Homo sapiens: one gene and its partner. The protein of the gene in region 2 interacts with the protein of the main gene of each other region in a pairwise test. Each region holds a gene or a part of one and is shown on either strand. Other genes may lie near its edges. The genes, in order: UBE2W and RFWD3.

Region 1 (3,399 bases), on a different chromosome or scaffold from region 2:
AGTACCTAATATGTAGTTTTTCCAACCCTGGCACCCATCCACTCTCTTTTAGAGACGGAATCTCGCTCTGTCCCAGGCTGGAGTGCAATGGCATGATCTTAGTTCACTGCAACCTCTGCCTCCCGGATTCAAGCTATTCTCCTGCCTCAGCCTCCCAAGTAGCCGGGATTACAGGCGCCCACCACCACGCCGTTATTTTATTTTTAGTAGATACGGGGTTTCACCATGTTGGCCAGGCTGGTCTCAAGCTCCTGACGTGATCCACCTGCCCAAAGTACTGGGATTACAGGCGTAAGCCACTGTGCCTGGCCCATCTTTATGCATGACAGTACTTTTCACAGACATGTTTCTTTGATAATCAGAAACTATCTGCACCTCTTAAGGCTTGTCACATTTTATATGATATGCTTTTCTATTTATTATCTCCCTTATTACATATGCCCTTTGAAGATATATACCTCATCTGCCATCCTTCTTGGCATATGAAAGGCACACAATAATTATCTGCTTAATGCTGGTTTTTAAACTCTATGTCAGGTTTACCTTTATGATTTTATGGTTCCTGAGATGTATTTAGTTTAAAACAATTAATTTGTGACAAGCAATTTGCCTCAGAGATAAAGATATGAGAAACACCTATAAAAAAAGCCAAAACCAATGAAGAATGATTAATGATTTATTTAAAAGTAGTTTTCTCAAACTCTCTGGGATAGAAAGAGCAGGGTCCTGTTATACATTTTACTCAGGTGGTGGTTCTGGATATATGTTTCAAAATAGCTAGCACCTAAGTTTCTTTGAGAAAGCTAGGATAAAAATACAAGCATAACCAAGTTAATTCAATACACACTTATTAAATGCCTATGTGCTACAGGTACTGTATACTAGGTACTGTGTGCTACGTGCTGGGGACACAAACACAATTGCAACACTGTCCCTACTGTTAAAAAGTTCAGGATAGATGACTGGTAGGGAGAGAAGAAAGGACAAGGATGATAACCTTTCAGCTACCTTTGAACTAGACCTTTCAGGTAGAAACGCAGATCATGAACATTCTAGGAGGGAAGAACATTAGCAGACGGCAGTGGAAGCTTGCATTGCTACTGCTTATGAAACAAGGTTTGTGGACAGCTGAAGAGCAGCCTAGGGACACCAAGGCCAGGTAGTGAAAGGCCCTAATGGTAAGGAGACTGGAGAGAAGGTAGAAATCTCAGAGACATTTTAAAGTTACACTCAACAGGACTTGAAAAATGCAAGGAGAGGACTACTGAGTATCATTGCTTGATTAAGTTGGATGGGAATGTCATTAAATTATAACAGGATAAAAGAAATATGTTTTCATTGAGGTATGGAAACATAAAATTTTAATGTTGAATTGGCTATCTGCAGGATACAGCCATCTATATTAGGATCTTGTCTAATGACATATATTCACCCACATTAAGTCCCTGAAGGCCAGATACAGACATGAGAAGATATTTCCTACCTTAGTTGATAAACTTTCCTTATTATTTCCATAATCCACTTAACTGTAAAGGGCGTAGGGATTCCCACTTATGTATTTTGCATTATGCAGGCAAACATTAAAAATAAATCTTACAGGCAACTAAAAAAATGGTTGAAAGGGGCTCCCAACAGGACAGATAACCACAGTGGCTTTGAGCTTTGTTGTCCAAGTACACAAAACTCTTAGCTGTCTCACTTGCTTCTTCAATTTAGCTTATGTTTAATTTTGTTACGTGTTATGTTAGTGTGAAAATGAGTAAGAAATATAGGGAGGACATAAACAGAGTCACTTATCCAGGGTAGCTTAAACTAATGGAGAAAAGTCAAATCCTACTATGGAAAGTAGAAATTAAGGATTATAATAAAGGAAAAGGGCATCATCAAAGTACAAAAGATGGTTCATATATTTATCTAACCATCTACTAACATAGTTGTGTAGGACGGCAGGAACAGCTTGAGACATGATCGTTTTTATGGCAGAATGGCTGCCTCAATGAGGACTAAGGTGCTCCTGGGGCAAGCAGATCCCCTGCAGAAAAGCTTAGAATTACCAGCAGAGCATATTTAATTCCTCCTGTCAGGAATAACAGATGCTGAGATAGCCCCTTCTTGTGGTTATTTCTTTCCTCTTCTTGCAGCTTCAAGAGTCACTCATTTAAGTCATTAGTTGATCTGTTTGTATACTCCAGAAAGCATCCAGAAGTTCTTAGAGTATGCCCTTAATTGTACAACTTGAAGTTCAGGAACATCGGACTCACGATAACTCTAAGCAAGTGCCTGGGTCTCCATTTCCATCTTCACTGAAAACACTCAGTCTTTAGTTGGGACTTATTAAAACACTAAAACTAGCTACATATTACATAAAGGTGATGTGTTAAATAGATGGTTTAAGTGACTATCTTCATTCTGTTGCACTCATTTTGGAAATGGACATGTTCCTGTTTCTATAATCCTTTAAAATTCAGTCTTTTGTGAAGAGAAACTACTGTACAAATACTTTTACGTCATAAACCAAAAAGAGGTCTGGTATCTATCCCATTTAGTATTCAAGTCTACAGAAAAAATCCAATAACAACTGCTTTATTATTAAAAGTTATGAAATTCCATAAAGCAAAGTAATCTGCATTCAACTAACAAGTCTGATACATGTATTAAAAAATATATAACATAGATTTGTCTGTTTTAACATTTATATTCTATTTAAAAAGTAGTGACTTTACATATTTTGCAACTTGAGTTTATAAAATATATACATCCACCCTATTCAAATCCTCAAGCATGAGCTTTCATTCCTATTAATAAAATGCACACTCTGTAGTTCTGAATAATAAAAGGAAAATGGCACCAACTAAAACAAACAAATTCATTTTGACCTGAACATGCATTTAGTTTTTGGCTACTAATCAACCCAATAATCCATTTTACCTTGAACCTGACCACCAATTTGCCTTTACATAAACAATCTGTGGTTAACTATGAAAAGATGCATTTTCATGGTATCTGACACAATTTACCAAGTTCCTTATGGTAGATTTCAGGCTTTAAATTGTAAGTTTCAGGCTTCAAAAGAGGCAGGATTATTAAATCTTTCCATACACCAGAAAATCTGACAAGTGATGTCATTTTGAAATCATGCTTTTGCCTTTGAGAAAACAACTTAGAATTGTTGTAGGACCAATGAGAAAACAACTTAGAATCGTTGTAGGACCATCCTTTTCTCAAAACCCAGAGAGTGTATGTGCCAAGGACTAGAACAAGAATTGGATCTCTCCTTTTCCCAGTCAACTCCTCACTCACCATATTAAAACTGGAGTTCTTGAGGTATGTTAAGATAGATCAGCTTCTATTCAGGCATTCCTTCCACATACTCAAAATACCCTCAGATATTTTATTAAC
Region 2 (3,827 bases):
AACACACCCAGCTAATTTTTGTATTTTTAGTAGAGACAGGGTTTCACCATGTTGCCCAGGCTGGTCTCAAACTCCTGGCCTCAAGTGATCCACCTGCCTCAGCCTCCCAAAGTGCTGGGATTACAGGTGTGAGCTACTACACCCAGTGCGCTAAGCCATTTCAATGATTACAACATCACTTACGCAACAGAATTTTCAGCTCCATTATAATCTTATGGGGCCACCATCGTATATGCAATCTGTCATTGACCCAAAGGTCATTATGCAGCACGTGACTGTAAAGTAAAAGGCTAGGCAGGATCTTTATGAAGCAAAATACACTTGTGAAAGACACAAGAAAACAGTGAACAAATGGAAGGATATTACATAATGTTCATGACTGAAAAGACTATCACAAAGATGGTACTTCTCAAGTTACCCTATAATAATTTTTAATGCAATTTCAATCAAGATCCCAAAGGTGTTTTTCATGGAACTTAACAAATTAATTTTAAAAAATTAATATGAAGAACAATGCCAAAAATAGCAAAAAAATACTTTTGCAGAACAAAATGGGGGAACATATATTAAAGCTACAATAAATTATAGCTTGGAATATGTGAGAAAGAATTAACAAAAAGACTGTGGAACAAAAGAGTACAGTGTCTCCTTATCTAGTTTCATTTTCCATGGTTTCTGATATCTGTGATCAACCACAACCTACAAATATCGAGATATGTTGAGAGAGAGATGGAGACCACACTCACATAACTTACTATAGTATACTGGTATAATTGCTCTATTTTATTATTTATTATTGTTAATCTCTTACTGTTCCTAATTTATAAATTATCCTTTAGGTTTGTATGTATAAGAAAAAACATACTACGGTTTCAGGCATTCACTGGGGGCTCTTGAAATGTATTCCTTGTGGCTAAGGGGGGACTACTGTAGCCCATTCATACATGGAAACTTAATTTTTTTTTTTTTTTTTGAAACAGTCTTGCTCTGTTGCCCAGGTTGGAGTGCAGTGGCGTGATCTTGGCTCACTGCAACCTCCGCCTCCTCCCGAGTTCAAGCGATTCTTCTGACTCAGCATCCTGAGTAGCTGGGATTACAGGTGTGTGCCACCACGCCCAGCTAATTTTTGTATTCTTAGTAGAGACACGGTTTCATCATGTTGGTCAGGCTGGTCTCGAACTTCCGACCTTGTGATCCGCCCACCTCAGCCTCCCAAAGTGCTGGGATTACAGGCGTGAGCCAATGCGCCCGCCCGGAAACTTAATTAAGGATAGAAGTAGCAATGAAAATTTGTACAGAAAAATATACTATTTAGTAAATTATAAGTCAGGTGTGGTGGCATGCGCCTGTACTCCCAGCTACTCAGGATGCTGAGGTTGGAGGACTGCTTGAGCCTAGGAATCTGATGGCGCCACTGCACTCTGGCCTTTGTGATAGAGCAAGACCCTGTCTTTAAAAAAAATTTTTTGGCCAGGCGCAGTGGCTCATGCCTGTAATCCCAGCACTCTGGGAGGCCGAGGTGAGTGGATCACGAGGTCAGGAGTTCAAGACCATCCTGGCCAAGATGGTGAAACCCCGTCTCTACTAAAAATACAAAAAATTAGCCAGGCGTGGTGGCGGGTGCCTGTAGTCTCAGCTACTCGTAAGGCTGAGGCAGGAGAATCACTTAAACCCGGGAGGTGGAGGTTGTAGTGAGCTGAGATCACGCCACTGCACTCCAGCCTGGGCGACAGAGCGAGACTCTGTCTCAAAATAAATAAAATTCACAAAGGTATGAAAAAATGAGAAATCTCTCCTTTTTTTTTAAACAAGAAAAGTTTAAGTTAGAAAAGTAATTTGACAATATTTAGGTAAAGCTGAAATTAAATGTGCCCTATAATAAAGCAATTCCATTGCTAGACCTCTCTGCAGCATGGCTAATATTAACAAGTGGAGACAACCTAAATGTCTACCAATGTAAAACACAAACAGATAATTTTTTTTTTTTTTGAAGACAGAGTTTCGCCATTGTTGCCCAAGCAGGAGTGCAATGGTGCGACCTCGGCTCACCACAACCTCTGCCCCCTGGGTTCAAGCTATCCTCCTGCCTCAGTCTCCCGAGTAGCTGGGACTACAGGTGCGTGCCACCATGCCCGGCTAATTTTTGTATTTTTAGTAGAAATGGGGTTTCACCATGTTGGCCAGGCTGGTCTCCAACTCCTGACCTCAGATGATCCGCCCACCTCAGCCCCTCAAAGTGCTGGGATTATAGGTGTGAGCCACCACGCCTGGCCTAAACAGATTAATTTTGACTAGAGAACTAGAATATTATCAAGAAATTGAAATGAAAAAAACTAGAGTCCCATGTATCAACTAGGATATACTCCCAAAGCATAAAATTAAGCAAAAAAGCAAGCTACAGAAGAAAAAGTTATAATCTAACATAACATTTGCATACAGTATAAAAACTTTCTGGCCGGGTGCAGTGCCTCACGCCTGTAATCTCAGCACTTTGGGAGTCCAAGGCAGGCTGATCACGAGGTCAGGAGTTCCAGACCAGCCTGGCCAACACGGTGAAACCCTGTCTCTACTAAAAATACAAAAAAAATTAGCTGGGCATGGTGAAAGGCGCCTGTAATCCCGGCTACTTGGGAGACTGAGGCAGGAGAATTGCTTGAACCTGGGAGGCGGGAAGTTGTAGTGAGCCAAGATTGCACCATTGCAATCCAGCCTGGGCAACAAGAGCAAAACTCCGTCTCCAAAAAAAAAAAAAAAAAAAAAAAAAACCAAAGAAACCAAAAACCAAAACAAAACTTTCTATATCATACTATGTATAATTTACAAATACATATATAGCTAATCAAATACATAATAACTCTTGGGAATGCTGAACACCTAATTCATGAAAGTAGTTCTCTATGGAATTAAGAACTTAGTTCACAGGAAGACTTCTAGTGTACCTTTTTAAATTTGACACAGAGTCTTGCTCTGTTGCCCAGGCTGGAGTGCAGTGGCGCAATCTCAGCTTACAGTAACCTCCGCCTCCCAGGTTCAAGCGATTCTCGTGCCTCAGCCTCCCGAGTTGCTGGCATTACAGGCACGCACCACCACATCCGGATAATTTTTTGTATTTTTAGTAAAGATGGGGTTTTGCCATGCTGCTCAGGCTGGTCTCAAACTCCTGAGCTCAGGCGATCTGCCTGCCTCAGCCTCCCAGAGTGCTAGGATTTCAGGTGTGAGCCACTGTGCCTGGCCCTTCTACTGAATCTATAATTAACTTCTTCTTCTTTAAAATTTTCTTTCCTTTTTTTCCTTCTTGACCTGGTCAACAGATTTATCTTTATTTTTTTGAGACAGGTTCTTACTCTGTCACCCAGGCTAGAGTGCAGTGGCATGACCATAGCTCACTGCAGCCACAACCTCCTGGGCTCAAGAAATCCTCTCTCCTGAGTAGCTGAGACTACAGGTGTGTACCACTACACACGGATAATTTTTTTCATTTTTATTAGAAACAAGGTCTCACAATGTTGCCCATGCTGCTCTCAAACTCCTGGTCTCAAGCAATCCTCCTGCCTCGGCCTTCCAAAGTGCTGGGATTACAGGCATGAGCCACTACACCCAGCCTATTTATTTTCAAAAAGGCTCAAAGCAATATGGCAAAACATTAAGATTTGATAAAATTGGGTAAAAGGCTGTTCGTTTTATTAGTCTGTATCGGCATTTTGAAACTCTTCACTTTTTCTAATGAGGCTGGAGAGTATACTAATTCCTTATTGTAATCAGTGAATTGTTTTTAAATATAATCACCCATTACAGCCACACGTATAGATTTTGCCTTTTCAACAAAA

What was found.
Region 1: the proteins of RFWD3 (region 2) and UBE2W interact in a two-hybrid assay, tested with the Homo sapiens proteins (one large-scale study listed by BioGRID and IntAct).

Annotation. Positions count from the first base shown.
Region 1 is NC_000008.11:73,785,561-73,788,959, forward strand, and holds the end of UBE2W (ubiquitin-conjugating enzyme E2 W), read right to left. Parts: 3' UTR 659-3,399; downstream 1-658. UniProt on the Homo sapiens protein: Accepts ubiquitin from the E1 complex and catalyzes its covalent attachment to other proteins.
Region 2 is NC_000016.10:74,639,190-74,643,016, forward strand, and holds part of RFWD3 (E3 ubiquitin-protein ligase RFWD3), read right to left. Parts: intron 1-3,827. UniProt on the Homo sapiens protein: E3 ubiquitin-protein ligase required for the repair of DNA interstrand cross-links (ICL) in response to DNA damage. Plays a key role in RPA-mediated DNA damage signaling and repair.